Linked DNA regions of Homo sapiens. The protein of the gene in region 1 binds, or shares a complex with, the protein of each later gene. Each region holds a gene or a part of one and is shown on either strand. Other genes may lie near its edges. The genes, in order: PHF12 and HDAC2. A codon is read from its position in the direction of its gene.

The links.
Region 2: the proteins of PHF12 (region 1) and HDAC2 are in contact, whole or in part, in a cryo-EM structure (PDB 8BPB), measured with the Homo sapiens proteins. Residues at the interface, in NP_001028733.1 of Homo sapiens: Met21, Gln25, Met298 (codon at 6,982), Asp299 (codon at 6,985), Cys300 (codon at 6,988), Leu301 (codon at 6,991), Glu302 (codon at 6,994), Pro303 (codon at 6,997), Pro304 (codon at 7,000), Leu305 (codon at 7,003), Thr306 (codon at 7,006), Ala307 (codon at 7,009); in NP_001518.3 of Homo sapiens: Gln27 (codon at 6,018), Tyr202, Gly203, Leu212, Arg213, Pro228, Met229, Arg230, Thr356, Glu358, Tyr359, Lys362, Ile363, Arg366.

What each region holds. Positions count from the first base shown.
Region 1 is NC_000017.11:28,909,976-28,926,201, reverse strand, and holds part of PHF12 (PHD finger protein 12), read left to right. Parts: intron 1-1,899; coding exon 1,900-2,293; intron 2,294-4,393; coding exon 4,394-4,514; intron 4,515-6,926; coding exon 6,927-7,059; intron 7,060-8,752; coding exon 8,753-8,917; intron 8,918-12,164; coding exon 12,165-12,323; intron 12,324-12,924; coding exon 12,925-13,720; coding exon of another isoform or gene 13,721-13,746; exon of another isoform or gene 13,747-14,058; intron 14,059-14,964; coding exon 14,965-15,090; intron 15,091-15,832; coding exon 15,833-15,976; coding exon of another isoform or gene 15,977-16,167; exon of another isoform or gene 16,168-16,226.
Region 2 is NC_000006.12:113,949,784-113,966,009, reverse strand, and holds part of HDAC2 (histone deacetylase 2), read left to right. Parts: intron 1-3,615; exon of another isoform or gene 3,616-3,643; intron 3,644-5,991; coding exon 5,992-6,104; intron 6,105-7,243; coding exon 7,244-7,361; intron 7,362-9,316; coding exon 9,317-9,391; intron 9,392-9,858; coding exon 9,859-9,997; intron 9,998-12,591; coding exon 12,592-12,733; intron 12,734-16,226. UniProt on the Homo sapiens protein: Histone deacetylase that catalyzes the deacetylation of lysine residues on the N-terminal part of the core histones (H2A, H2B, H3 and H4).

The DNA.
Region 1 (16,226 bases):
GATTAAGATTGTGGTTTATGTGTGTAACAGTTTCAGCCTTTAAGAAAGAAAGTAAACAAGCAGACATTATTTTTCAAATACGTGCATAAGGGTTCATATTTAAAAGCAAGCCAAAGCCAGGTCAACCACCTAACCACAGCTGTAGTTAAATTTCTCCATAAACCAGGCTGTCTTCCAGCCTCTCCACCTTCCAAGATCCTTTCCTGTGCATCCCTAATTAGGTTAGAGCAGGGCCTGTTAGAGGCACCTGCCAGCCAGGAGCCCTCTCAAACTTGCCACTCAAAAAAGCTGGACCTGAAAAGGTTTAGGGGAGCTGAAGGAAAAGGGGTAAAGACGGTGGAGAAAAGGAAATATTATGTTAGTGCCCATCGTGTGCCAGGTGTTTTAATTACGTTATCCCATTATCTATCCATCCAGCCATAGATGGATACCGAATGCTGGCCGTAGGTTTCCATTTTAGAAAGGAAGAAACGGAGGCTCAAAAATGTAGATTAACTTTCCCAAGGACTCAAAGGTATTGACAGAACCAATGTTTGAACCAAATTCTCTCATTCCAAACCTCTGTTACCTCTTCATCAGTTTTCTAGAAGGAGAGCTACTTGTTGGGGATTACAGTATGCCCTTTTCTAACATGGCACTTCTCCTGAGATGCCTCTCTTACCTTTCACATGGACCTCTGCCTACCAGTGCCAAGTCTGCCTTTTCCACCATCACCAGCACTACTCCCCTTTGGCCTCTTGTATTTACACTGAAGTGGATTGAAATAATACATCCTCTGGCCTTCATCAGCTCCTGACATTCAGGCCCTATCATGATTCGTAGTGGAAGACTAGGTCCTACTCCAACTCCAAATTATCCCTTTCGTATATATGACCCTTTTTATCTCCCTCCACCATATCCCTGAGAGGAGGAGGAGAAAGATTTTTCTGTCTCATTTTACAGATGAAGAAATTCCTGCCCACCAGCCTGAGTCACCACAAGGTCAGAGGGGATCCGTGGCAGAAATAGGACAAGATCACAGGTCTCCTACCTGGAGATCAGTGTTAAACCTTCATTTGACCACTCTATTTGGAGTCCTGGAGGAAAATGTACTATCAGATATCCAGTCCTACTGAGTACACTTAATCTTTTTCCATTTCCCCACTTTCTAAGAAGTGTCACTTATTTTGAGCAAAGTTTTTATTTTTAAAACCATTCAGGAGGTCAGAAGGCTCTATAGTGATCTCACTGATTTTTTTTTTTTTTTTTTTTGAGATGGAATCTTGCTCTGTCGCCCAAGCTGGAGTGCAATGGCGCAATCTCAGTTCACTGCAATCTTTGCCTCCCAGGTTCAAGCGATTCTCCTGCCTCAGCCTCCTGAGTAGCTGGGATTACAGGCACATGCCACCACACCCAGCTAATTTTTGTGTTTTTAGTAGAGATGGGGTTTCACCATGTTGGCCAGGCTGGTCTTGAACTCCTGACCTCAGGTGATCTGCCTGCCTCGGCCTCCCAAAGTGCTGGGATTACAGACGTGAGCCACCGTGCCTGCCCCATTGATTTTTACTATTGGTCTCACTAAATTTATTCTCACTGTGTTACCTTTTTAGCCCTTTACCCTATACTTTATAGATGTTGTATGTCATACAATGAGTTAATGTTAATGATATATATTTTGTATAGTTATTCCTAACTTACCATGCTTTTTGGTGATTCTCTGATGCAACAGTTTTGTCAGCTTTAGTTCAGTTAGAGTTGTGTCAACTTTAACAGACCAGTGTTCCAAGTGACCAGGTAGATGAGTCTGTGATATGTGAAGGCCTTTTACAGTTTTGATTAGTGGTCTACCAGGACTTTGTAGCACCCATCTCTTTGTTTCATGGTACTTTTCATGATGGGCCCACCTGTTCATTTGCACAGAAACGAGAGCAGAAAAAGGAGCTGGGTCATGTCAATGGACTGGTGGACAAATCTGGCAAACGGACTACATCCCCCAGCAGTGACACTGACTTGTTGGACAGATCGGCCAGCAAAACTGAACTAAAGGCCATTGCCCATGCCCGGATCCTGGAAAGGAGAGCCAGCAGGCCTGGCACACCCACATCCAGCGCCAGCACAGAGACTCCCACCTCTGAGCAGAATGATGTCGACGAAGACATCATTGACGTGGATGAGGAACCAGTAGCAGCGGAGCCAGACTATGTGCAGCCCCAGCTGAGGCGGCCCTTTGAGCTGCTGATTGCTGCCGCCATGGAGCGGAACCCCACCCAATTTCAGTTGCCCAATGAACTGACTTGTACCACTGCACTACCAGGTCAGCCAAACCATCATCATATCCCTTCCCAACCCCAGTTTCCCCAAAGGACCAGCACAAGAGCAGTGCTGCCTGTGGAGTCACTGTTCATGTAGCTACTGTCTTGGGTTCCTGTTCCTAGTTCTGCTTGGAGAGATCTTTGAAGGTCTTAGCCATTACAGAGCTTACTCAGTTTTCCATTTTCTCAGTTTCTGAACTTCTTTCCTTCCCCTCCCCCAGAATTATCTTTTTCCTTTTTTTTTTTTTTTTTTTTTTGTGAGTCTCACTTTGTCACTCAGGCTAGAGTGCAGTGGCACGATCTCGGCTCATTGCAACCTCCGCCTCCCAGGTTCAGGCGATTCTCGTGCTTCAGCCTTCCAAGTAGCTGGGACTACAGGCGCATGCTACCATGCCTGGCTAATTTTTGTATTTTCAGTAGAGACAGGATTTTACCATGTTGTTCAGGCTGGTCTTGAACTCCTGACCTCAGGTGATCTGCCCACCTCGGCCTCCCGAAGTGCTGGGATTACAGGTGCGAGTCACCACGCCCGGCCCCAGAATTATCTTTTAAAAAAAAAAAGTATTATACATTCACATGGTTCAAAAATCAAAAAATATTAAGGGCTACAATGAAAATTTCCCTCCCACCCGTCTGCCATTTGCCTACTTTCCACCTTCCTGCTCTTCACAGGTAACCACTGGTTGATTCTTGTTTATTCTTCTCAAATTTCTTTGTGCATGTAAAAGCAAATACAGATATATGCTGATTAATTTTCCCTTAAGTAACATGCTAGTTAAACCATTCTACACGTTGCTTTTTTTTTCTCACTTTAAAATATGTTCTAGAAGTCTTTTCATATTAATATAGAATTTTTTTTTTTTTGAGACAGAGGCTGCACTGCACTGTGGTGCAGTGGTGTGACCACAGCTCAAGCAATCCTCCCACCTCAGCCTCCCAAGTAGCTGGGACCACAGTTGTACACCACCACACTCAGCTAATTTTTATATTTTTTATAAAGACAGGGTCTCACTATGTTGCCAGGGCTGGTCTCAAATTGTGCTCACACGATCCTCCCGCCTCAGAGGATCCCAAAGTGCTGGGATTATAGGCATGAGCCACTGCGCCTGGCCTTCTTGCTTTTTTTAATGGTTGCATAGTAGTTCTTTGTACAGATACGTCATAATTTATTTAACCAGTGCCATTTTCTATTAATGGACATTTTCTATTAATGGACATTTAGGTTCCAAATCTTTCATTACTACTGGTAGTGCTTCAGAGAATAACTTTGTAAATACATCATTATATACATGTATAGATGTGTGACTATGTCTATAGGACAATAAAATTGCTGGGTCAAAACTATATAGTTTTGATAGATATTGCCAAATTGTCCTCCATTCTTTTTTTTTAAGTCCTGGCTTCTTGATACTGTAAAGCTTCTAGGTCTTAGTTTTTATTCCCAAAGAAAGTGAAATTGGTAGGCTTAAGAAGGATGCATATAGAATCAAAGCTTCTCTGATTTTTATGAAAATGTGGGCCAGGTGTGGTGGCTCACACCTGTAATCCTAGTACTTTGAGAGATCAAGGCAGGAGGATTGCTTAAGGCCAGGAATTGGAGACCAGTCTTGGCAACATAATGAGACCCCATCTCTCAAAAAATAAAAATAAAAAAGTTAGCTGAGTTTGATGGCCCACACCTGTAGTCCTGGCTCATATGGAGGCTGAGGCAGGAAAGTTGCTTGAGCCCAGTAGTTCAAGACTGCAGGCCAACTCCACAGAATAGTCCTTGTTGACTATGTGGCTTGGACATTTACATTTCTTAGGTTGCCTGTATCTAACCTAGCATTTCTGACCATTTTATGTTTGCAAAACAGTTAGATGTGTTTCTGCCATAGAACAGGTGACTTCTGGTTCTGACTTACGTATTAGTCTCTTTTTTTTTCCTCCCTAATCTTTCTTTTTTCTAACTTAAAATCAACCCCAGGGGCCTCAGAGAGCAATTCATGCTTAGGCCATGACACATGCTTAAGATCTGTTTTTGTCACTTAATGTTGTTTCCATATTGCAGGCTAGGAACTCTGAAGCCAGGGATAGCTCAGCACCATCATTTTCTTTTCTAGGTTCTAGCAAGAGGAGAAGAAAGGAGGAAACCACAGGGAAAAATGTTAAGAAGACACAGCATGAATTAGATCACAATGGTCTCGTTCCCTTACCCGTCAAAGTCTGCTTCACGTGTAACAGGTATTTTCTTTCATACTAAGGGGCTCTTTCTCATTATTTAGCAGATGATACTTTTTCTCTCATCACCTCTTCCAGACCATGTATGTTAAATGTGAACAGCCCATATTCTGATAGTATGAGTACATGGAGACTAACTAATGGACTGACGAGAGCCTTGAATGTGTATGTGTTAACAAATTTTCTGAAGAATCACAGTACAGGAGTACTGTGAACTGTGTTGAGGCCGAGCACGGTGGCTTATGCCTGTAATCGCAGCAATCTGGGAGGCCGAGGCGGTCAGATTGTTTGAACCTGGGAGCTTGAGACCAACCTGGGCAACACAGTGAAACCTTGTCTCTACAAAAAAAAATTTTTTTAATGAACCAGGTATGGTGATACGCACCTGTAGTCCCAGCTACTCCAGAGGCTTAAGCAGATTAGCCCTGGAGGCTAAACTGTGATCACGCCACTGCACTCCAGCCTGGTCAACAGAGCGAGACCCTGTATTTTAAAACAAAAACAAGGGGCCGGGCGCTGTGGCACATGCCTGTAATCCCAACACTTTGGGAGGCCGAGGCAGGCTGATCACAAGGTCAGGATATTGAGACCATCCTGGCTAACATGGTGAAACCCTGTCTCAACTAAAAATTCAAACAAACAAAAAAAAATTAGCCGGGCATGGTGGCAGGCATCTGTAATCCCAGCTACTCTGAAGGCTGAGGCAGGAGAATGGCATGAACCTGGGAGGCGGAGCTTGCAGTGAGCCAAGATCGCGCCACTGCACTCCAGCCTGGGCGACAGAGCAAGACTCCGTCTCAAAAAAATAAATAAAAATAAATAAAAACAATGGCCCGGTGTGGTGGCTCACGCCTGTAATCCCAACACTTTGGGAGGCCGAGGCGGGCAGATCATGAGGTCAGGAGATCAAGACCATCCTGGTCAACATGGTGAAACTCCATCTCTACTAAAAATACAAAAATTAGCTGGGTGTGGTGGCACGCACCTGTAGTCCCAGCTACTCAGGAGGCTGAGGCAGGAGAATCACTTGAACCCAGGAGGCGGAGGTTGCAGTGAGCTGAGGTCACGCCACTGCACTCTAGCCTGGTGACAGACCAAGACTCCATCTCAAAAAAACTGTGTTTACACACTAGAACAAGAGGAGTTGGACTTAAACTAAACATTAACTTGAATCACTAAAGATAAGTTTAAAAGTAGTATAAGGATCTATGATAGTGTGTATTGGACTGGATGACTTCCAAAAGCCCCTAGGGCTGCCCCAGTTATAGTCTCTGGGACACTGGTTTCCTTCAAATAGGATCTCTTTGACAGAAACCAGCTGCTTCAGTTACTGAAGCTGGACTTGTTGGCTTGGGTGTGTTAGAAGGACTGTATTATGGTCAGAGCAGGGTAGCAAGAGAAAGTAACTATCAAAAAGAAATGTTTCACAGCAAAAGGTATAGGGAAAGGGAACTAGATAGTAGAGTGGCAGAACTCTGAGCCAGGACAAACTGTGGCTCCAGTGCATCTTGGGGACCCCAGGAGTATTGTAGTTACAAATCGTAGTTGTCATTTGCTTAGTCCTCTTTTGAACCCTGCTTACATGAATACATTACAAAATCATCTTTCCAGCACACCTCTAATTGTCAGTTCTGCTGAGTGCTTCATGCAGAAGAGAAATATTTTCTTGCTATAGTTAAGACTCCAGAAAGGTTGCTAGTGATTTTTTTAATGAAGTAGGCTCTCTCTTTTAAGAAGTAGGAAGATCAGAGCAGAGTTCACTGTTTTCCCCTAGTGAGTACTGAGCATTGATCATCCCTACTCTGCCACTTTAGCTGTACTCCAAATAAACATTCACTTTCCCGCAAGACATGTTCTTCTTAGAAGAGAGAATAATGAAGAACCTAATGGGAGCCCCCAAATCCATCCATGTTGTTTTTTTGTTTTGTTGTGTTCTGTTTTGTTTTGTTTGAGATAGAGTCTCTCTCTGTCACCCAGGCTGGAGTGCAGTGGCGCCATCTTGGCTCACTGCAACCTCCGGCCTCCTAGGTTCAAGCAATTCTCCTGCCTCAGCCTCCCGAGTAGCTGGGATTACAGGTGCCCACCACCACGCCCAGCTAATTTTTTGTATTTTTAGTAGAGACAGGGTTTCACCATGTTGGTCAGGCTAGTCTCAGTCTCAGTCTCCTGACCTCAGGCAATCCGCCCACCTCGGCCTCCCAAAGTGCAGGGATTATAGGCGTGAGCCATCGCACCAGCCCCATCCATCTTTCTAATCATAAATGTAACTGAATCACTGGAGGAAGATAGGGGAGAATGTTAGGATCAAGGAGGGGAGAATGTTAGGATCAAGGAGGGGAGGCTGTTCCACAGGTCAAAGTTAGTTTGAATTTTCCTTTTCTTGCCACAGAAATGGCCAACATCTCTTTTTTGCAGGAGTTGCCGTGTGGCTCCTCTCATCCAGTGTGACTATTGCCCTCTCCTGTTTCACATGGATTGCCTCGAGCCGCCGCTCACTGCCATGCCCCTGGGCAGATGGATGTGTCCGAATCACATCGAACATGTGGTGGTAAGCACAGCAGTGTCCATTCAGTCCTCAATGGGCATAGCTGGAGCGTGGACTGATTAGCAGAAAGCATATTAAGGTCAGCTTGGTGCCAAGTTCACCACATTGTCATAGGTACTGGTTTCTGCAGGCCACCCTACTCAATTCTGATCATTTTGACATATTTCAGCTATGCTTTTTCTCACAATGTTTTGTTTCAGCTGCCCATACAGACTTAACTCACTAGTGCTTGGTTGTTTGTAAGTGACTTATAGGGAATTAAGCAGTTGATGTTATAGCCCTAAAAGGGGAGTATATTAGATCCAACCTTAAGGAAATAAATCGTTGGCTGTCTGGGGTACATGTGTCCCAGGCACCAAATGAAGTTTAGTAAATAAGCTGTTGAATGAATAATAGTGTGAAGGTCCTATTGCTTTCTCTTCCAAGAGTCTTGGGTTTATTTTCCAGACTGAGGCTAGAAAAGAGCTGTCACTTGCTATCTCCAAAAGAAGTTTAGGACATCTCTTTATAGGCAGTTAGAACAGTCACTCACAAGATTGAATGGGAGAGGATTTGAGGAGGAGGAGCTCCCTCATAAGAGCAGCCTTCCAAATTAAAAAGGCTACTGCTTAAGACATTGTCTGTCAAATGATGATAACCATGGAATGACCGTTGGCCTTCATGGCAGTGTGCTGCTGACCTTGCACTGAGAGGAACCTCGGTTAAAGACTTGCACACATGGAAGAGAAGAGTTACTTTGTGTTCTTTTGACTCATGCCAGTCAAAGATTTTTCTAGGAGGAAAATCTAGTCTTGTTTTGCTTCCTTGTTTCTCTCCTAGTCTTGTTTTGCTTCCTGATGAACCAGAAAAAAAATGACCATAAGCAGTTTACCCAAATGTGAAACTTAAAGAGCAGCTTTCTAGCAGTTGAGAAATTCTTAGTGGGTTAAATTTTTGTTAGCCACTTAAAGGTTTTTCCTGATTTATGAATTAGGCAGCTGCCACAGCAGGTCCTTTCTTTTGAATTAAAATGTAGGAGCCCAGATGTAGAATAGGAAAAGTGGCATAATTTCTGTATGCCTTCGTATATTATTGCAGAAACTCTTCTTTCTTTTCTCCTTTTGGCTTCTAAGAGCAATCCAAGGTTTTCCCTTCCAGTAGAGGAAGACTGATATCAAGATGGGTTAACTTATGCTCCTTGGTACCACGGAGTAGGAGTAGAGCAGAGCACACGGATTTCTGGTTCTGACCCAGTTGTCAGCCAAGCTCCTATGTAGGACACAGTCCTGCTTTTCCTATTAGAGAGAGGCCCTTCCTGGGAAGGGAGTGTGGGTCTCTTAAGGGTCGAAGCATACGTCTTCTCTGAAACCTGTGCTGCTATTAGAGGGCCCTGACAGAGGCTTCTCTGAGCTGGAACAGAAGACTGTCAGAGGCCGAATTTGGAAGGGCACGTCTTGGCTAATTTCTCCTGCCTTCCTTAAGGCTCTCTAGGGAACAGGAACATATTGGCTCTCTTCCACTGGACTGGGCAGGGCTGAGTAGGAAGTCTCATCCATGTTCCCTTGCTCTCTGACAAAGAGTGCCGACATCCTGGTCCCTAATTGAGGGAACCTATGTGGCTGAGGGCTTCTAGTTTTTAAACACAGGGAATGGGGTTAACTGGGATAGGAGGTGCCTTTTGAGGCTCACCACAAGGTTGTGTCTGCTTTGTCCCTAGCTGAACCAGAAGAATATGACACTGAGCAATCGGTGCCAGGTGTTTGATCGTTTCCAGGACACCGTTTCGCAGCATGTCGTCAAAGTGGACTTCCTGAACCGAATCCACAAGAAGCACCCCCCTAACCGGCGTGTGCTCCAGTCGGTCAAAAGAAGAAGCTTGAAGGTGAGTCACAATCAGGTGCAGGCAAGATGGTAGTCTGCCTGCCATCATGGGTTAGACAGAGGATCACTGTCCCAATTTTACAGGCAGGGAAACTGAAGCCCCAGAAATAGGTTTGTGGTGTCTCGTGAGTAATGAGTGTGACCTTCATTTTAATACTTGGGGATGATGGTCAGGATTATGAGGGCCGAACCTCAAGTTAGCCTTCGAAGTCTACCAGTCTCTAGTTTTCCAAAGGATAAGCACTCTTCAGCCCATCCCACCAAACCCAAATGTGCTCTGTTGTTACTGCCACCCTCACCTAACGCTCATTCTATCTGTTCCTGTTAGATGGCCTCTGTCCAAGAGGCAAAGTAAAGGTGGGGATGATTAAGCAGAAAGAGCCATGTGGAAGGTGAAGAGCTAATCCCAGCTCAGGAACTTAAGTGGAAAATATCTAAAGGAAACTTGAATCTATTTTTCCAGGCTGCTGTTAATATATCACCAATGCTCCAAATTGTGGCATAGCTGTAATAATGCCTAATATTTATATGCTCTTGACATTGGCCAAAGTGTGTTTACAGAGATTGACAGAAAAATTTCCCTCCTTGAAAAGCATTTGGTGGTAGTGAGGATGTTTTTAAACCATTCAATCCCCTCATTCAGTTAACCTAGAGGGTCCAACACTATATACCCATATATAAACTTGTTTTTCTCTTTTGAAATGATCCCACAGTCTTATGTGCTAACAGAAACCAGCACTTCTCAAGTATGGCCACTTGGTGGCAGCCACATTTTAAAATCAATCACACTGGCCAGGCGCGGTGGCTCACGCCTGTAATCCTAGCACTTTGGGAGACCAAGGCAGGTGGATTACCTGAGGTCAGGAGTTTGAGACCAGCCTGACCAACGTGGTGAAACCCCGTCTCTGCTAAAAATATAAAACATTAGCCTGGCATTGTGGCAGGCACCTGTAATACCAGCTACTCGGGAGGCTGAGGCAGGAGAATCATTAGAACCTGGGAGGTGGAGGTTGCAGTGAGCCGAGATCGCGCCATTGCACTCCGGCCTGGACAACAAGAGTGAAACTCTGTCTCAAAAAAAAAGGTCAGTCACACCACTGCCATCACCTTCAGTGGGTATCAGCACTAGCAAGATGCTAACTGTTGAAAATTGTATAACAAACTTAACTGGGCAAATATTTATACATCAGTGGAGACACAGGTTTTCCAAAACTAGATTCAAATATTTCGGAAATGGATGATATTAAAGGTAGTATGCCTCATCTCAGTGAAACAGATCTAAAAGTAATCCAGACTGTGTAATTCACTGTGTAGATTTGTCAGAGAGCATAGCTGCTGAAGTGAACGGGCCAGGAGACCTTGATAAAAATCCCCTTGTTGTATGGTGCCCCTCCCACCTTTTAAGTGTTTCTCTAGTGAGGAAACTCAAAGGGCATGAGTTACCTGCAAAGCATTTTGTACTTGGACAGTTTGAGAGTGAAATGAGGACCGTAGCACCATAGAACATTGGTGAAGAACCCCAGCTCTCTCCTGGAACATTAGCCTTTACACTTGATTCTAGCAATTCAGGAAAAATCTGCTGAGAACTTTGTATCTTCGTTGCGAATTTCTCTTCCACTTAGCCCTTCACTCTTCCCCAGGGGTATCCTGTTCTTACCCCAGGGGTAGTGGAATAAACTAGTCCACTGTTTATTCCTCCTCCTCTCATTCCTGGGTGATCTCAGAAAGCCCATGGCACCAGCTAAGGCCATCACCAGCCCATGGTGATGACTCTCAACTCCATATTCCATGCCTTTCTCCTTATATCCAGACTCATATCTGCCTGCCCATCCCACAGATATCTCAGGATGAACCTCCTCCATAAGACCAGAAGTCTTCTGCCTCTCCACATCTGCTCTTCCTCCTGTATCTCCTATTGCAGTAAATAACAATGATCACTACTCAGTCCCTCAAACTAAAATTCTGGGAACCATTTTCAGTTCTCCCTTGTCTACCATAAGGATTTTGTCACCAAATCTGTTGGTTCTCTGGATGTTTTCCAAATCCACAAAGTGCTATCACATCTCTATGCCTTACATGCTTCTCCCCCTCCCTTATTTTTCCTTTATCTGCCTGGAAGATCCTTCTCAACTTCCAAGTGTCAACCCAAATACTGACTTCCTATAAAATCATCCCCAATCCCAAATTCCTGTCCCCCAAACTAAAATAAGCACTATGTTTTTAATAGCACCTTAGACATGCTTCTCTTCTAGAACCCATTACCTTGTGTTGTAATATTTCTGTGTTTATCTCCCCACTAGACTGTGAGCTCCTTGAGGGCAAGTCTTAACTTTTATTCATCTCTGGATCTCTAGAACTTGGAACAGTGCCCAGACACAGGAGGTGCTCAATAAATGTTGGTTGAATGTATGAATGACTCTTTGCTTGTGTGGCTCTTTCATTCTTACATGGTGTGATTCAGAGTGTGGCTTCTGTTTTTGTTGCACAAAGACGTCTTTAGTTGTTTCATGAGTCATGAATGAATGGATGAAGGAAACTGACATTGATGGAGTGCTTATCATGAGCCAGGCCTCATGTCAAGCATTTTTTTTTTTTTTTTTTTTTTTTTTTTTTTGAGACGGAGTCTCGCTCTTTCACCCAGGCCGGACTGCAGTGGCCCTATCTCGGTTCACTGCAAGCTCCGCCTCCCGGGTTCATGCCATTCTCCTGCCTCAGCCTCCCAAGTAGCTGGGACTATAGGCGCCCACCACCACGCCCGGCTAATTTTTCATATTTGTAGTAGAGATGGGGTTTCACCATGTTAGCCAGGATGGTCTCGATCTCCTGACCTCATGATCCTCCCGCCTCGGCCTCCCAAAGTGCTGGGATTACAGGCGTGAGCCACCGCGCCTGGCCTAAGCATTTTTATCTCTCAGTGACTGCTCACCCACTCCCAAACTTGACACTGAGCAATAAGAACCCAGAGTACCACTCTGAAGCCCTGTCCAGTGCCAGTCTTACACCTTTCAGGCTAAAGCAGAAGACAGAACGCAGTGGTTTCTGTGTTCTGCAGGCCTTAGACCTTGATGAAGGAAAGTGGAGGCCCCACCTGCTATTTCCATTTCTGAGCCTCCTTTTCCTCAGCAGACCCCAGAGTGGATGGTCCCTTGAGCACCAGCACCACAGACAGAACAGCATACCAGGGCAGAATCAACTAGACATGTTGGAACTATCTCCCTCTCCTTCCTCCTTCTATCTATCCTGAACAGGTTCCTGATGCTATAAAATCTCAGTACCAGTTTCCACCCCCTCTCATTGCACCCGCGGCCATTCGGGACGGGGAGCTGATCTGCAATGGGATCCCTGAGGAATCACAGATGCACCTTTTGAACTCTGAGCACTTAGCCACCCAAGCAGAGCAGCAAGAGGTGAGTGAAGGTGGGGCGGGGATTCCAAATCCAACCTTCCTTCTGTGTCACCACAGCTGTTATCAGAAGTAGCCTCAGTGTCATTCTCATTCCAGTCCCCACCCACCCTCATCCTAACCCCTCAAGAGTTGAGTATTCCAGGGGGAACTTCTGGCTCAAATCCCAAAGGCAAGTAAGAGATCTACAAAGGCAACTGGTCTGCTTCTCTCCATCGTTACCCCAGTGCACTGTGAGATGGGCAAATCTATACTGTAGAAAGAGATGAGTAGACCCATAGAGAGGTTAGGTGATAGTGCTGGACATACCACAGGTGCTCGGGGTAATTGCTGAATATTGGTCACAAGTAAGCCTTAAAGGCAGAGTCAAAATGCAGATCCCAAGCTCTGTTGGCCAGAGGGAGTGTTGGCCTGCTGAGGGTACCTATAAGTCTTGCTTGGGAATGGAAATGGAATTCTATCAGGAGTCAAGCACACCCTTTGTGAGCATTCATGATGGGACCTCGGAAACTGCTTGTCAGCTCTGCTGCAGCCCTGGCCACTGTGGCAGGAAGGACCGGCGCCTCTCAGGCTTCTCACCCCCCTCTCCTCTCCTTCCATTGCAGTGGCTCTGTAGTGTTGTTGCGCTCCAGTGCAGCATATTGAAACATTTATCTGCTAAGCAGATGCCTTCGCATTGGGACTCTGAACAGACAGAGAAGGCTGATATTAAGCCTGTTATTGTGACTGACAGCTCAGTCACCACCTCCCTGCAAACAGCTGACAAGACACCTACACCTTCCCACTACCCCTTGTCCTGCCCCTCAGGGATTAGCACCCAGAATTCCCTGAGCTGCTCTCCACCCCACCAGTCCCCAGCCCTAGAGGACATCGGCTGCAGTTCTTGTGCGGAAAAATCCAAGAAAACCCCTTGTGGGACTGCCAATGGGCCAGTGAACACAGAGGTGAAAGCTAATGGCCCACACCTCTACAGCAGCCCTACTGATTCCACGGACCCCCGGCGACTTCCAGGCGCTAACACCCCACTACCAGGCCTCTCACACCGGCAAGGCTGGCCCCGGCCCCTCACGCCACCAGCGGCTGGGGGCCTTCAGAACCACACCGTCGGCATCATTGTGAAGACAGAGAATGCCACTGGCCCCAGCTCTTGCCCCCAGAGGAGTTTGGTTCCTGTCCCAAGCCTGCCCCCTTCCATTCCCAGCTCTTGTGCCAGCATCGAGAACACCAGCACTTTGCAAAGAAAGACTGTCCAATCACAGATAGGACCTCCGTTGACAGATTCAAGGCCACTGGGCTCACCCCCAAACGCCACCCGGGTGCTCACTCCCCCGCAAGCAGCAGGAGATGGTATCTTGGCCACAACAGCCAACCAACGATTCAGCTCACCAGCGCCATCGTCAGGTGAGTGCTGCTCAGCCTTGGGTTGATTTGGAATAATTTTATGCTCTTTCTGGCAAATAAGATTCTAAAAGCACTTATATCCCTGTGAATACTTCAGAGGACTTTGGCCTTTGTATTGTTTGTCTTACTCTCATTTCCGTAATAGAAGAGGAAGCACATGTTAACTTGTCCCGTTTATAAATGGGACTGCTTAGGCTCTGAAAGCTTCAGTGATTTCCTTAAAATGACCTACTGAGTCAGTGGCAGGATTGGAACCACAGCCCAGGTCTCCTGACTCCATCCCATACCTTCCAGGCCTAGGCCTCTGCCTGTTTTGTTCTGTCACCTTAAAAGAAGGCAGGGTGCTCTCTGGAATTACTATGATCAGCCTGAGGTTCTGCGTGATGGCCTCAGTATTGTCAGATCCACACAAAAGAATGGATTCATGCCTGATGCATATTCTCAGAAAGAGTTAATCTGATGAACTTCCATGTCAGGAAGCAGGGCTAGACAGCAGCACTGTCTTTCAGAGGAGCTGTAGAGTGGGATGCCCACAGGGATTGTTCTAGCCCAGAAGCGTGCCCTCAGGCCACATGCCAAAGGGCGGTCCTTCAGGTCTGTACTTGGCCTACTGTGGACCTGCTCTCTCAGCTGTCCCCAGAGAGCACTCAGGACCTTGAAGTTGCTGACCCCAGCATCTGAACCAGGTTTCAGATGCTGCCGGAACCCTCTGTGGTCTCTCCCGTCTGAACTGAAGCCGGCCTCCTAGTCAGCTGGGAGTCTCGGTAACCAGATGATTGTGATTTCTCTGCATGGGAGCCCCTGGTCCCAGGATGGCCCCGCTCCCAGGCTGTTTTCCTATCTCTGTTTATCGCTTAAAACCAGCGTGGGTAGATTCTCCACGCCGTGAGTCATATTTCAGTAGGCAAGAATTATAAGGGCAGGCACTACTTATTTTAAAGTAGAGGCAGCAGGGAGGTGGTCATGGCCCAAAGAATGAAGCTGCCCCACCACTTTCCCCAGAGCAGTGGATTTCAGTGGTTCTCAGTGCTCTGGAGACTCCTGCGTGCCTGGGTGCTTTGTCGTTCCATCTGCCCTTCCTCACCACACGTTTTTAGCTCTAGGAGTTCCAGAGCCTATGGGTTGAGAATCAAGAAGGGAACATCACCTTGGGTCCGAAATCCAGACCTGTCTCAGCAGTGGGGGATTGGACGGTGGGTTTCCCTCAGGCGACGTAAGTAACAGTCTTCCTGCTCCGTCCCCAGATGGCAAGGTCAGCCCCGGCACGTTATCCATAGGAAGCGCTTTAACCGTACCCTCTTTCCCAGCCAACTCTACTGCCATGGTGGACCTCACCAACTCACTTCGAGCATTTATGGATGTCAATGGAGGTGAGTGAATGAGCTGCTGCTGTTCCACCGTTTGCTATGTTGAAGGTGCTATTCCTATACAGCATTCAGCTCATTTCAGAAAGGGAGGGAAGGGACACCTGATCCCAGAGGCCTAGGGGGAGATGGGAATGAGGAGTATCCTTTTGGATGGGGGGGCGGGGTGAAAAAGAAAGCTCCTTCTGTAGCTCTGCCTTCTACATGTGCATATACACATAATCAAAGATGAAGGGAGGACAGAGCCAAGCTGAACCAGTGAGACGAGAACAAAATCACTTTAGGCAGATCACCTGGATTTGCAGAATAAAACTAAGATCCTCACTCCCAAAGGAGGGACCTCATCTGTGGGAAACCCCCAAAGTCCAGGAGAACAGGGACAGATCTTGATCTCTGTGAACACAAGGTGGGTAGAAAGTTCAAGTCTCAATATCAGACATCCAGGCCCTCCCCCACAGACAGGCAAGTGGTTTATTCCACTCTGCCTTTCTAGGGGCACTTTAATTAAAATCAGTCCACCCAACTACAGGAGGCAGCTGCACAGGCTGCATTGGGGCCCATCTCACTGCAAATGGCAAGTGAGATGCCCAGCTGCAGATCCTTGTACGCTCTGCACTCAATGCTGTTTGAGTAAAAATCACTTGGCTGGATTTTAGAAATGCCAAACTATTTGCTCTGTGACCCTGATTTGCTTCCACATTCCACTTCCCATCTCAGCTGCTTTTTAATCTTTCTCTTTGGCTAATAGAAATCGAGATAAATATGCTGGACGAGAAGCTGATCAAGTTTCTGGCCTTGCAGAGAATACATCAGCTTTTCCCCTCCCGGGTCCAACCTTCACCGGGCAGTGTCGGGACACATCAGCTGGCTTCTGGAGGGCACCACATAGAAGGTGCGCATGTACACACCTGTCACCACATCATCAGATCTCCCCTCTACGTGTGCGAATGGTCACCTTGCCTCCATGGAGAATCTGAGCTTCCAGTATCTCAAACCTCCTTGTGTGCTTTTCATGGGCTTAATAAAGCACCATGGTTTTTTTCTGAAGAGAGCAGGAACAAGATGGCAACCACAGCTTTCTGATCAGACTTGGGGAAGTCTGCTGTAACTTTCTTTCATATATAAGTCCACTTCGAGACACA
Region 2 (16,226 bases), on another chromosome or scaffold:
CCAAACAAACAAAACTCCTTAACAAAAACTTTAAATGCTTCTGTTGACAAGTCCTTAAAGGAAAACACTTGGGATTGGAGAAGGCATCTCTTAGGGAATGTTAATAAATTCAAACTTGGAAGAATTCAAATCAAGTCTAAGGATTTTTTTGTACTGGTTATTAAGCCTTATTCCTCTGTATTTCAGTAGCAGTCTGCTTATTGTTACTTGTTCATTAAGCCAGCTTTGGGTTCAGACATATCAAATAGGCTTAAAGTTCCTACTGTGTGCCAAATAGACAAAAGATTGCTCAAGTCCTAAGAAGGAAATAAAAGACTGCAGGTATAAAGTAAGAGAGGGGGCCGGGTGCAGTGGCTCACGCCTATAATCCCAGCACTTTGGGAAGCCGAGGCGGGCAGATCACAAGGTCAGGAGTTTGAGACCAGCCTGGCCAACATGGCGAAACCCTCTCTCTACTAAAAATACAAAAAAAAGTTAGCTGGGCATGGTGACGGGTGCCTGTAATCCCAGCTACTTGGGAGGCTGAGGCAGGAGAATCGCTTGAACCCGGGAGGCAGAGAGGTTGCAGTGAGCCGAGATCATGCCATTGCACTCCAGCCTGGGTGGGTGGCAAGAGCAAGACTCTGTCTCAAAAAAAAAAACAAAAAAAGTAAAAGAGAGGGGACCTTTGATAGTGTAATCAGAAAAGGGAAGACCTGAAGGAAGAGAATGGGCCAGCCTTAAAAAGAGTTTACTACATAAGATATTACAAATAGCAAAGCCAGATAGTTATTAATAGAACTTGGTGCACTTAATGGGAAGGAAGACAAGGAAAATGTGGAGTCCCATGTTAGGCAGTAAAAAGTGGGACTGCACAAAACTGTGTAGTAAGAAATTTGACTTTACCCAGAGGTGGAAAGCCATTGAAAGTTTCTCAAATAGAATGCATTCTCTCAAAATAATTGGTAAGGAGTTGTGGAATATAGGCTGGAAGCAAGAATTGAACACATATTGGTCCATATAAAATGTAATGGTTGCATTTTAGATAGAAATAGACATATTTAAGAGAGATTTGGGCCTCAAACCAATAGAACTTTTTGATGGATTAGAAATGGAGTTGGAGCTGAGGAATGGTGTTAGAGAATGAAGGATGACTCCTAAGTTTCTGGATTGAGCAGTTAGGTGGTATGTGGTACTACTCACTAAGATTGGGAATACAAATAAAGAGCTCTGTTTTGAACATCTTATATTTGAGATCCTTATTGAATTCAAGTGAAAAGACTGAGAAGAGAGTTAACCTCTGTGAGTTTATAATCCAGAGAGGAGAGTCTAGACATAGAAATTTGGGATTTCTCAGCTTATATCAGGTGAAGTATTGAGACTGAAAAAGATACAGCATAGACAGACGACTGGTCCCAGGACTTAACTCCCGAGAGAAGAGAATTTAGGGCAGAACTATTGTTCACTGATGAACCCAAACCCTTAGAACAGTACCTGCTTGGCACATGGTAGGCTCTTGATTTATTAAATGAATGGCTGAACTGAAAACCCTTGATGTTTAAAGGTTGGTGGAGGAGTGGCCTTGGGGTACAAGTAAAATCCCAAGAAAATGGTATTATGGAAGCCAAGGCTCCGAATGTCTCAAGGAGGAATAACCTCCTTGAAATATGTATTAAAGATGTGTTAATATGTATAAAAAATGGATAGTGGGCTAAGTAGTCTGGAAGATGAAAATAATAAACTTTTTTCTTTTCTCTTGTTTTTTTTTTCCTGAGTCTCTTTTTGCAGTCAACTTATCTTTGTGGCTAAAGGTACATTTCACAGTTCTGAAATCCAAAATGACCTGAAAATTGAAAAAAATTTTGGTAACTCATTTGGAATCAAAATCTTAACCTGAATCAATGTGAGGCTATTTATGATCTTTATTCCTCTGTGAATACCGTGAATATTCACACTTTTTTGCTGTAGAAATATTAATGTTTGATTATATCATGCCACCCAAACTCTAGGCTATTACATAATATATGGCAGGTGTACCATATTATCTCTACAAAATCTGAAAAAGTGTAAAATTTGAAACATATCTAATTTGAAGGAATATGGATAAGAGATTGTGGACCTTAGTAGACACTTCCATTCTGTTAGTTTCTTGAAGAGTGAGCAATTTGTAAAATTTTGCAGATAAATAATTCTTTACAGTAATTTCTTTGCATTGACAATTAAAGTTTGTTGTGTTCAAGGAACCACCTTGAGCTGATTTTTCTGAATGTTTATTTCATTGGTAAAGTATTTTTATGTACAGGTTGAATATCCTTTATCTGAATTCTTGGGACCAGAAGTATTTCAGATTTGGGGAGGTTTTGCAATATTTGTAATTATTTACCAGTTAGCATCCCTAATTCGAAAATCAAAAATTTGACATGCTCCAGTTAGCATTTCCTTGACTATTAAGTTGGTGCTCAAAACAGTTCAGATTTTGGAACATTTTGGATATCAAATTTTTGGATTAGGGATAATCTGTATTTTGATGCAAATCAGTAACATTTAAAATGCCCAAATTATTAATACATTACTGACCATTTAAATGATGAATAAAAATTGTAGGGTCTTAAAACTTCTTAGCCTTTTTATACTTTATGAAAAAGTGGGCTGGGCACAGTGGCTCACATCTGTAATCCCAGCACTTTGGGAGGCTGAGGCGGGCAGATCATCTGAGGTCAGGAGTTTGAGACAAGCCTGGCAAATATGGAGATACCCCGTCACTACTAAAAATACAAAAATTAGCCGGGTATGGTGGTGGGCGCTTGTAATCCCAGCTACTTGGGAGGCTGAGGCAGGAGAATTGCTTGAACCCCAGAGGTGGAGGTTGCAGTGAGCCAAGATCACATCACCGCACTCCAGCCTGGGTGACAAGAGCGAAACTCCATCTCAAAAAGAAAACAAAGTGGATGCCTACAAAGTAGCCATCTAGAGAATTGTGAGATACAGAATTAGTGGGAAAAAGTTGGAGATGGTTATTTTATAACGCCTTTATATTTTAGAAGAATTCTTTTTTTTTTTTTTTTTTGATACAGAGTCTCGCTCTGTCACCCAGGCTGGAGTGCAGTGGCACGATCTCGGCTCACTGCAACCTCCGCCTCCTGGGTTCAAGTGATTCTCCTGCCTCAGCCTCCTGAGCAGCTGGGACTACAGGCGCATGCCACCACACCTGGCTTTTTTTTTTGTATTTTTAGTAGAGACGGGGTTTCACAATGTTTGTCAGGAAGGTCTCGATCTCTTGACTTCGTGATCTGCCCGCCTCGGCCTCCCGAAGTACTGGGATTACGGGTGTGAGCCTCCACGCCCAGCTAGAAGAATTCTTGGTAAACCAAAAAATTATCTGTAGCTTGGCTGCCCTGTATACATGTATCATTTAGGTTCTTTGTGTATTCTTTGTGGGACTGGGGTCCCTAAATTTCAACAGAGAAACTTGTTGAAAGCTATGCGTATTCGTATACGATTTGAGGACCCTATTAGTAAAAAGTAAATTACTCTGATATATTAGGTACAGTTTCTTGTGTTCATTTTCTTTAAATTAACCAAGACCCTAAGCCTTTATTTAAAATATTTATATTTCATATTATGTCTTTTTTTCAGCCTTCACCCTGCCATTTCTAGTGAATCTGTAAGTGTCCTTGACATTCCCTGTTGTTATTACTTAAGAACATTAGCTGTGAGCTGCCCTGCCAGAGTTTGAATCTAGCTCCTCCACTTGCTGGCTATGTGACTTAGGCAATAATACCTGACTTGTCTGTTTCTCATCCTTCTTTACTATTATACAATAGGAATAATGTAATAATACCCACATCATAAGGTTATTGACAAGATTAAAAGATATGTGAAGTACTTAATAGTGCCTTCTAGTAAGCACTCAACAAGTGTTAATTACTGCTTTTTTTTTTTTTCAAACACACTTGCTCAGAAATTGCTACTGTAGTCTCCAATTATTGGGGCCTGGGGCTTTTCACTGGATTTTCAGTGTGCATCAAATAACTAGAGTATTTGATGTTATGATGTGGTAGATGTTAGAGACATTTCATTTGGGTAATTGTTACACAGAGGCAGATAGATGGAAGTTATTGTTTAGTTTGTGTCTTTTCTGTTTTAGGTGATATTGGAAATTATTATGGGCAGGGTCATCCCACGAAACCTCATAGAATCTGCATTTCTAGTGAAGACTAGACTTTCATTATTTTTACTTTAATGATTTCTTTAGTAGTGATAACTAAGAAATGCCTTCCCTTGTATTAATTTAATTACATGATGCTTTGTAATAACACTAGTGGGTTTTCCATATCTAAGAAATGATGAGACCAGGCTGCTTTCAAGGAACTATATATCCCTTGTATTGTCACCATGTAAGGTAGAGCTTTATGGTAGATTCTTTCTTAATAGGTAGTTTATTTTCTGCAATCATAGCCTCTTAATTATAATTGCAGAGGAATGTTGCAAAGGGCCATGGCCCTGCTTTGCTAAACTCTATATTGTTTCTTAGCCTTGTTGGCACCTGCATTAAAAAGGTGGCTTTCCCTTTAAAAGACTTTGTATATGAATTGTTTTCAGAAGAGAGCTGTGCTGAAAATGAAGTTAACTAAAATTAGAGGTGTGATACCAACAAAATCAAGTATTTATGTTATTAGAAGCATGGATTTTGTAAAAGCTGATTGTTTATCCCGTACTGTTATCAAATATGTAGGAGAGAGGACAAAAAAGTTTTTGGGGTTGTTTCCATTAAACAAACAAAAGGTGTATTTAGGGAGGACTTTGAAAGATTTAGTGGATAAATTGCATTTTTTATTCTAGCTTTTATTGTAATATATAAACCCGTGTTGAAATGATAGACTTCAAACCATTAAAATAGCTTGACTGTCCTGACCCTGTGGGGAATTAGTTCCAAGACTTCCACAGATAGCAAAATTCATGGGTGTTTAAGTTCCTTCAATAAACTGGTATAGTATTTGCATATAACCTATGTATATCTCCCCTTACACTTTAAGTCATCTCTAGATTACTCATAATACCTAATACAATGCAAATGCAGTGTAAATAGTTGTTACACTGTATGATTTAGGGGAAGATTACAAGGAAAAAAAGTCTCTACGTGTTTCCAGCAGACACCACCATCTATTTTTTAAAAATATTTTCAGTCTGCAGTTGATTGAATCCACAGATACAGAGGGTTGACTTTATATATTTGAGAGGCTTCTTGTTATTTACTATTATAGGAAACACTGGAGCTTTACCTAAAAGTATTAATTTTATTGAAATTTAGTTGATGAAAATCTGTGATTTTGTTATTTTCTCTTTTTTAAATCTTATGCATAAGTTTAAAGACATTGTGATATAAGATGCCGTTTAAAAAGACAGGCTAGGAATTACAACTTTTTAGTCATGAAGAATGAGACAGTATTTTTATTACCTTGAAAAATGTAATGCTGTGTCTTAGTGGAGCAAAACCTCATTTAGGACCTAAATTTCAGTTACCAAAACTTCCCTGATGGGCTTTAATATGGACACGGTATGTTTTAACATGCAAAACGCCAATTATGAGATTTCTGAAATGCCAGCAAATCATCCAAAAAGCAGTATTTGCTGAAAAAATTTTAAATCATACCAATAAAACTCAGAGAACTTAAAAGCATGTGAATTTGCCAGAGAATACAGAAAGCAGGCATCATTTCAAGGAACAGAAATTTTAAAAATTGGGGGTAGCTAAAAATCAGAAAAGCTTGCTTTCCTTAATCTACAAATAAATATAATGTGTAATAATGGAGTCTTCAGCTGGTAAAAGTGTGCGTAGCGTCTTAGTCATCTGATACAGTTTGAAAGTTGCAAAATAAATCTAAGTTGCTAAGGTTTTAAATAAATTTTGTTAAGTAGTAAATGCCTTCTAATGATAGACATACATAAATTCAAATAGTTCATGGAGGGTCTCTTGTCTGTATTGTTTAGTTTGTGTCTTTTCTATTTTAGGTGATATTGGAAATTATTATTATGGACAGGGTCATCCCATGAAGCCTCATAGAATCCGCATGACCCATAACTTGCTGTTAAATTATGGCTTATACAGAAAAATGGAAATATATGTGAGTATTCCTTTTAATACATATTCAGCACTGATCTTTTTTATTTTTTTTTAGCTACTGTGAAACTTTGTCTATTATTCCCCTTTTGAGGGCATTTAGCAGATGAAAAGATCTGGAAGAAAACAAACTTCTTTTTTCGTTTATTCTTAGGAGATGAATAAGAATGAGAGCTATACCCTCTTTTTCCTTTTCCTTTAACCATTTAAAAAAGTTCCCCCTACCCTAGGCTTTCATGGTTCTGGAGAACAACTCAGTATAGCAACAACTCAGTGTAGCATATTAAGTATTTTTTTTTTTTTTTTTTTTTTTACAATAATTGTTAATCTGCCTGTGCTGCTGAAAAGAGTTGACCTGGGACTGTTACAAAATAATAACACATAAAATTAATCCCACAAATATTTGCAGGGCATATAATACATATGGAATACTGTGTTAGTGTGGCCAAGCATAGTACAGATAACACAAGTGCAACAGCTGCCTTAATGTTTTTGTAGATAAAGATGAGGGTATGTATAAACAAATACAGACACGACAATTAGCTATTTGGGGAGAAAAGAAATATTTAAAACAATTAATGCTAGGCAATATATGTGAATATGTGAATTATTTTCAGTTACATGTAGACATTTAGAGAAGAGGGGAAGTTAGAATAAGACTCAGTCTGGAAGTCTTGTGGAAGAATTGTGTCATACGTGAAATTGAGCTCTTCGGAACAAGGAAGATTAGGATAGAAAAAAGGACGAGAGGTCGTGAACAAAGATTTAGAATTGAAAACTCTTGTAGTGAGTGATTTCATTGATGAAATCACTGGATGTTTTATCATGGAAAAGGAGAGAAAGTAGAGTTTATGAACATATGGATTTGACTTTTTACTCGAACTGTTTCCACTAAAATAAGGAGTGATTAAATCATAGTTGATATGCCTGTGTAATGCTTTTAAAGGAGTTTGAATTAGTTTTGAGATTGATTACTGTTTTCTAAAACACATATAAGTTTGGGTTAGTTTTGGAATTTATATATTTTGTTCTGGTAGACTTGGTTCTTTTGAGGGGACCGATAGGGGAATTTGTATATTTGTTTGATAATACTGATATAACCGGTTGTAATTCCACAGTTCTGACATTTATTTCTCTTCACAGAGGCCCCATAAAGCCACTGCCGAAGAAATGACAAAATATCACAGTGATGAGTATATCAAATTTCTACGGTCAATAAGACCAGATAACATGTCTGAGTATAGTAAGCAGATGCAGAGATGTACGTTTCTAAGTAAAAAGTAGTTTTGCTTTGATAAATGTAAATTAGTATTTTTAGGAGCTTAGAATGATCTAAATCTGAATATTTTTCCTGTTGGTCTAATATGTTACAGTTATTTACTGATTTGAAAAGTCATTTTAACACTACTAAAGCTACTTAAGAAAAAAGTAAACCTATCTGAAGCTTATTGGTTTGCAAAACTGCTGTTTGGGTATTCTTCTACTCCTAGTTTGCTCCCCTGATAACTTTGGGTTAATACATATTGGTAGGGAGACCTCACTCCCTTACTCCCTCGCTTCAAAAAAACAAAAACAAGATTACACTTTGATTAGCCTTAGCTTGGCATGTACATATCTCTTGTCTTGTCTTTGTGTACTTCAGTTAACCTGGACTATAATACACATCTCTTTTTCTTTGTTAAGATATTAGTGAAGCTTTTGATTCTACGTAATGTTCTCTTGTACAGGTTAAAAGTATTTTATTTTTAGAGATTAGTAACAAATTGGCTTGAAGGTAGAATGCAAAAGTCAACCTAAAATTATTGGAACAGTATCTTTTAAAGCTTGATACCAAAGTTCATTCTCATTAGTGTTTGTATTGACTGACTTCAGTGATGATTATACTAAATTAGTGTAGGTGCTAGACATCTCATATTTACAACCTCATACACATTTCTGCCATATCTTGTTTGATTTGTTATAATGCTACAATGTAACTAGAACATGTAGTATTTAATTTTTTTTTTTTCAATGAAGATTCCAACTTAGATGCAAAAGAGGCATGAGTAGCCCTTGGGCAAACAACATAACAGGATTGATTTAAAACCCACATAATAATGAGTTCTATTAAGCTTATGATCCTGGCCAGGTGTGGTGGCTCACGCCTGTAATCCCAGCACTTTGGGAGGCGGAGGTGAGTGGATTACCTGAGGTCAGGAGTTCGAAACCAGCCTGGCCAACATGGCAAAACCCTGTCTCTATTAAAAAAGTACAGAAAATTAGCTGGGTGTGGTGGTGCGCGCCTGTAATCCCACTACTCTGTAGGCTGAGACAGGAGAATTGCTTGCTTGAGCCCCAGAGGTGGAGGTTGCAGTGAGCCAAGCTCACGCCATTGCACTCCAGCCTGGGCGACAGAGTGAGACTCTGTCTCCAAAAAAAAAAAAAGATTATGATCTCTCTGTGCAGTAAGAAACTAAAATTCATTTCTTATAGTGCTTGTGACTTAAGGGTATACAAAGATATTAATATACAAAACAAGGACCCTTATTCTTGAAGAGGTTACAATTCAAGGGCATAGGGAAAGACTAAGAAAGGGTTACATACATCTGCCATATCCTTTCATTCTCTCAGTGCTAAGGAACTAAATGTGTGATCGTTTATCTGTAAATGTTTTCCTTGTTGTCTTTAGTATCCTATGTTTTGGCTCCCATGAACCTAGTTAATTCTTAGCAACTTTCAAGATCAAGATTAGCCATGGGAATAGGCAACCAGCTGTTACATCTTTTTGGTTTAGTAACTTACTGACATGCATTTCAAAGTTACAGATATTATAGGTATTTAAGGAGTTTCAAAGAAAGTAAATTATAAAGCAATTGAAGTTGCTTTTAGAATGTTAACTTATTGTAATATTAAGGGGAAAGGCCTAGAAAATTTAAGCCTGTGTTTTAATTAAATAAGAATTGTTGTACTTAGACAACTATTGAGTTCTTGTTAATAGACAGAAATATTCCACAGATAATCCTGATAAGATTTGATGATCTTTCACAGATAACACTTTAATTACCTTGGATAAAACAATAAATATATTTTAAAGTTGGAAACTTTATATTATACTGTGAAGTGTATGTTTGATGATTGCATCAAGCAAAAAAGTATTTGTGGGAAATAGTTTTTGTAAGAAAAGGCTTTCATTAATTTGCAGAATGTGTTGAAATTAATGAAATCCATCTTCCACAGTTAATGTTGGAGAAGATTGTCCAGTGTTTGATGGACTCTTTGAGTTTTGTCAGCTCTCAACTGGCGGTTCAGTTGGTAAGTGCTAATGCAATCAGATTTAAAAGTTGATCTGAACTTGGTGTGTTATCTTTCGGGTTATTTGTGTAAAACAGAAGTTTTAATGATTGTGAATTTTGATAACAAAAGGAAATCAGTATGTTTATAGTAAAGTACAATTTACTTTCAAACCTCTATGTTTTATGATTATGACTTAAACGCTTTTTAAACTTATTTTCACTTGGAGACTTCATTCATTCCCTTTGTCTTCTAGGTATCATTGTTACTACCACTTTCCACATAAACCATTATTTAATCTCAGGTTGCAGCTCTAGGAGAATATTTTTCTAAGGAGTAACTCCTATTTGTGTTATAGATGATTTCTGTTAACTTTCATGATTTTAAGCTCTTGCTTATGCATGGCATACACTTGTAGTGTTTTTGTCTCATTCTACTACTTTTTTATGATAAATGTTTAAAAGGTCTATCTTGTTTCTACTTCTTAGCTGGAGCTGTGAAGTTAAACCGACAACAGACTGATATGGCTGTTAATTGGGCTGGAGGATTACATCATGCTAAGAAATCAGAAGCATCAGGATTCTGTTACGTTAATGATATTGTGCTTGCCATCCTTGAATTACTAAAGTATGTTAATTTATATTGATACTCTTTTCAGTGATAAAGTGTTTTCATTAAAACACAATAAATAAAGTCTATGGCTTTAAAAAATATTAGGTAAACCATAGGTTGAAATAGTTAATGGTGAATTTTCTATGAATTCATTACAAAACAATGAAGAAATGCAGGAAATTTGCCCAATTCTTCAATTATTAAGACTTAGAAGTGTGGCCAGGCACTATGGCCCAGGCCTGTAATCCCTCCACTTTGGGAGGCTGAGGTGGGCGGATCTCTTGAGCCCAGGAGTTTGAGACCAGGCTAGGCAACATGGCAAAACCCCATCTCTACAGAAAAAAAATTAGCCAGATGTGGTGGCATGCATCTGTAGTCCCAACTACCCAGGAGGCTGAGGTGGGAGTACCTGAGCCCAGGAAGTTGAGTCTGCAGGAAGCCATGTTCCTGCCACTACACTCTAGCCTGGGCAACAGTGTGAGACCCTGCCTTAAAAAAAGAATTAGAAGTGTATAAAAGGCCAGTGCCGTGGCTCATGCCTGTAATCCCAGCACTTTGGGAGGACGAGGTGGGTGGATTATGAGGTCAGGGGTTTGAGACCAGCCTGACCAACATGGTGAAACCCCATCCTACTAAAAATAGAAAAATTAGCCGGGCGTGGTGGCGTGCGCCTGTAATCCCAGCTACTCAGGAGGCTGAGGTGGGAGAATTGCTTGAACCTGGGAGGTGGAGGTTGCAGTGAGCCGAGATGGCACCACTGCAGTCCAGCCTGGGCTACAGAGTGAGACTCCATCTCAAAAAAAAAAAAGAATTAGAAGTGTATATAAATGTCAAAACTCCCATTAAATACCCTTTTTTAAAAGTAGTTTGGCAATTTTCATTTTAGTTAGTTTCAACTAGTAAAAAATGACAATGACCTTGGAAGTTTATATTCTAGTATTTTGGATGTTTTAAACTGAAGACAAAAATTTGAAGCCAGTGTTAAAGGAAATTTTTTTACCTATTGAGTTAGTCTAACTGCCTAACTTCCATATCTGAATGAGGCTTTGTTCTCTACTGATGGATATAAAATTATCTCTGAGTTGTTGAAGGAGTTATTTTTCCTTATCTGTGGCTGCAGTTTGAGAGAGAGATCTATAGAGGTACTTAGGAATTTGGATGTTCGCAATGTTAGTTATTTTTTGCCATCAGTTATGACACATCTTAGCAGATTCTACTTTGTATTATACTGAGCTAGTGTTTTTTGCTTGTAGTTATTCCATGCATGCTATCCATAGAGGCTGACTTTTCAGTCAACTTAAAATTGATACTGACTCCTCAAATAAACAGTGATTGAGCAGTATCAGTGTAACATCTTGCCTGCTCATCAGGAGCAAAGGAAAATCATTTGCAATCATTTGCCTTGTTTTTTAATTGACTGTTGATGTTGGTTCCAGTGTCTTCAACTCTTTGAGCAAGTTCTTGCCCACTCAGCTAATAGTTTTAAACAACTTTAATTTGTCTGGACACATTTTTTTGGGTGGTGTAATCAAACATGATTTAATTAATTGACTTGGTGCACAGCTTTCCTTGCTTATCTAACACGTGAGCCGCTCAGAAACTTTATTTTGATCACAGCCTCATTTCTGTTTTTTTAATTTTGTGAAGAAATTTTGCTGTACTATGGTATGCTGTTTATAGTGTTATGAGAATATTCTTATGAGTGCTTAGTCTGGAAATATCAATTTACATTGTATTGTTTTATTTAGCACAGTTATGGCACCATTATATAATAAATACAATGCTTTGCCATCTAATAATATCTCACTTCACTATACTTCAAAAGGATGACATGAGAAGTCCATTTTCCCCTTATTTTGACATGAGTATACACTGGTAACAAAATGTCATGACATGGTGATTCATGTGACTCCTAAACTGCGTTTGAGTTACAACTGTGTCACTAATCTGTGGTGCTCCAAGCACCAGTTTGAAGTCATGAGAGTACCACATGTAGCCTCTGTCACAGCTAATCGATTCTGCAGTTCAAATGAAGCCATAGGTAATAAACAATTGAGCATGGCTGTCTTTCAGTAAAACTTTTTTTATGGACACTGAAATTTGAATTTTGTATAATTATCACACGTCAGAAAATACTCTTGTTTTGGTTTTGTTTTTAAACCATTTAAAAAATAATAAAAACTTCTTAGTTCAAAGCTGAAAAAAGAGGCAATTGGCCAAATTTGGGCCATGGGCCATAGTTAGCCAATCCCTATTTTATACTATTGAAGATTTACTACAGAGGTGTTTTAATTAACAATCTTGAGTATGGTATAATCTTCAGTTTTTAATATATTAGAAATATGTGCTATGTTTTTGAAGCATGTAGAATAGAACAGATTTCACAAAGAGTAAATATATATTTTTTAACCTACATTGGGCCACAAGTGGGTATTTAAAGGCCTGAGGCTCAAACCTCAGATATTTGAATAACCTCTTAGGCTGAATGTAAAAGGTGATTAAACATTCTGGAATGCAAGAGCTCAAAAATGGGTTTCCTGAATTTGTGGTGCTTCTTCCCATCTTAGAACCTTTAAAGGAAAAACCAAAACTTATGGATTTGTTTTCAGGTATCATCAGAGAGTCTTATATATTGATATAGATATTCATCATGGTGATGGTGTTGAAGAAGCTTTTTATACAACAGATCGTGTAATGACGGTATCATTCCATAAATATGGGGAATACTTTCCTGGCACAGGAGACTTGAGGGTAAGACTAAATTCTGTCTGAAAAAATATTGTGAGATGAACCTAGGAGATCAGTAATCCTATACTTGAAGTAGTATTTTTCTCCTGAGTTAATAATTTGAAACTTGTATGCAGAATTGAATTACTACGTATGCAGTAACATTTGCTAGAATTCACTGTTGCTGACTATAAGCAAAAATTTAGTGAAAACTTAAGGACAGTTTTTTTCTCAGCTGTTTTCTTTGGTTGAATAAATGTTTTTGAATATCCACAAAGCATGAAGCCCTTCTCTTGATGTTCAGTTTGAATCTTCAAAACTACCTGATGGTAGCCTACGTTGCTATTGATTGTAAAGAATGGTGGAATAAAATAGACTAGGTCTTTTTAGGTTCTTCTGCTCCTCTCTTTTGTGATTGGTCTTGATTTTTAGTAGATCTAATTTTAATCTTTTTTTTTCTTTAAGCTTCTAAAATTGGTAATGTATTTAGGTAGAGAAAGGATACCATAGTGTAACCTTGCCTGCCTGTTAACATTAAGTGTATTTCTATTTTATTTGTTATCTTTTTCCATTTGATGCTCTTGTCTTTTATGACTCTGAAAACCACTGGTCAAATCCTATTTCTATAAGTTCATTGAAGGTTTTTTGCCTCACTACACTTTTTTTGAACCTAACTATACAAATGTCGAAATTTATTCAATAATTTAAACAGCTGTTTTTAGTTCAGCCTGGATTATATGGGAGATTTATATGGCATTGAACAAAGTTTTAAACTATTTTATTAAGATTATTTTTCACATCTGTGGTATATCATTACAGTTTAGCAACCAAAGTTTAAAGAGTTGCCATAAAGTATTCTTAAGCTGTATGGCTTTTCTTTATTAGATCACAGTGTGATACTTTCTCAGTAAACTCTTTGAGTAAAAGAGTTACCTTACTGAAACTTTTCCATACTTACAAATGGGTGGGAGGTCAAATGTTTGGTTTGAGTTTAAATTATTTAGCTTTTAAAATTGCAGATTTGTAATTTCAATTCCTTGCCAGTAAACTCCTTCAATTTCTCCCTTTCCCCACCTGGTCTTATCTTACAGACCAGTGCTTCTCAAACAGTGGCGCCTAAACTGAGGAAAGCAGATCAGCATCACCTGGGAACTTGTTAGAAATACACATTCTTAGGGCCCAGAAACTCTGGGTGATTCTTCACCTTAAAGTTTGAGAACCACTGCTGTAAACTGATAGAATACATTTGTCAACAACCATTACATCCTAGTGGAAGTCAAGCAAAAGTCTTCTCTGTTTTAAGCTTAAAGAATAAGACAGTATCTTTGCAGTGTGATGCTAGTTTATCTCAGAAGTGGAAAATGGAAGCTTCATTTAATTTCTGACAGGTGGATGTCACTATGGTCTCATCTCAGTTATTATTCAAAATTCTTACAGTTTGAAGTTTTTGAAAATATTAGAGAATGCTGTTTTAGAAGGATTTGAGAATGGCTTTCAACATCTCTTTTTCTCACTTAAGATTTTACAATCGCTGGGCCGGGCGCGGTGTCTCACGCCTGTAATCCCAGCACTTTGGGAGGCCGAGGTGGGAGGATCACGAGGTCAGGAGATCGAGACCATCCTGGCTAACACAGTGACACCCCGTCTCCACTAAAAATACAAAAAATTAGCCGGGCGTGGTGGTGGGCGCTTGTAGTCCCAGCTACTGGGGAGGCTGAGGCAGGAGAATGGCGTGAACCCGGGAGGCGGAGCTTGCTGTGAGCCGAGATCGCTCCACTGCACTCCAGCCTGGGCGACACAGCAAGACTCAGCCAAAAAAAAAAAAAAAAAGATTTTACAGTTGCTGATGTTTTCAGGATAACATTTGAATATTTTAAGCATGTCCCCATAACTTCGTAAGAGAATTAAAATCAGTCATTACATTATATGTACAGCTGTTTTTGGACTTTCTGTGTAATTCACGTGTATCTTTGGATGTTAATTTAATAAACACTCCTTTTTCTGCCTGCTAATTCATTCTCATGCTGAAAAGAAGGCTACTCTGAGTTTAGCTCATTGTTGAAACTGTTTGCTTTAATTCAAGTAGTCTAGTGGAAGAAAGAAAGGTGGCATAGTAGCAGTTGCAGAATGAAACCTGGAAGAGAGAAAGCTATGTCTAACAAGGGCAGCAGCTCTGAGTTGCCAGCTAGTTAGTAGCAGTTAGGATGAGAAGTGCTGACCAACTTTTCTGTATTCTGAAATCTTAGGGTCAAAATATATTTCATCTGTGTTTTAACTGTGCAGTAGGACTGTAAAGTTTTCACAATACTTTGGCTTTTCCATATTTGTATGGTTTGTATTTAGTTAATCTTAATAAAAACTTAGACTTCAAGAAAAATTGGGAGAGGAGGTGTGTAATTTTGCTTGCTTTCTCCTCGTTGGATGTTGGGTCTCATAACTCTAATATTGAGGGTAAATTTTGCTTTTGTAAAATTGGACTGAAGCTAAGATCATTCCATGAGAGGTTCAGAAGAACTTGCACAAGTGCTAGTAATCCTGAAAATTCATGGATCTTCAGACATTATCATTCAACGCACATAAGAATTAGGCACCCCCCCCCCACCCCACTCAGGCGCAGTGGCTCATGCCTGTAATCCCAGCACTTTGGGAGGCTGAGGCGAGTGGATTACCTGAGGTCGAGAGTTCGAGACCAGCCTGACCAATATGGTGAAACCCCGTCTCTACTTAAAATGCAAAAAAAATTAGCTGGGTGTGGTGGCGTGCACCTGTAGTCCCAGCAACTCAGGAGGCCGAGACAGGAGAATTGTTTGAACCTAGGAGGCTGTCTTGGCTCACTGGAGTGCAGTGAGCCGAGATCATGCCACTGCACTCCATCCTGGGCGACAGAGCAGGACTTGATCTCAAAAAACAAAAAAAAACAACAAAGAGGCACACCCCAATCCTTTGGTATTGCAGTTAAAATACTATTTTGTAGTAATGTCTGTACTATACAGTATCTTCTAGGAATACGTATACACACACAGAAATGCATATGCACACCTACAAATGCATAACATATACAAATAAGTAAGTATATATAATATATGTATATATCATTTAAGAGTATATGTAGCTGGAACCTTTGCGTCTTTTGAGAGAGATTAATGCCTGGAGTGGTACTCATTCAACAAGTAGGAACAAAATTTGTTTGAAGTCCAAGTCCAATTAAGAACAAATCTGAGGCTGGGCACCATAGCTCACGCCTGTAATCCCAGCACCTTGGGGGGCCGAGGTGGGTGGATCACCTAGGTTGGGAGTTTGAGACCAGCCTGTTGAACATGGAGGAAACCCTGTCTCTACTAAAGATACAAAATTAGCCTGGCATGGTGGCACATGCCTGTAATCCCAGCCACTCGGTAGGCTGAGGCAGGAGAATTGCTTGAACCTGGGAGGCGGAGGTTGCAGTGAGCTGAGATCACGCCATTGCGCCTCCAGCCTGGGCAACGAGCAAAACTCTGTCTCAAAAAAAAAAAAAGAA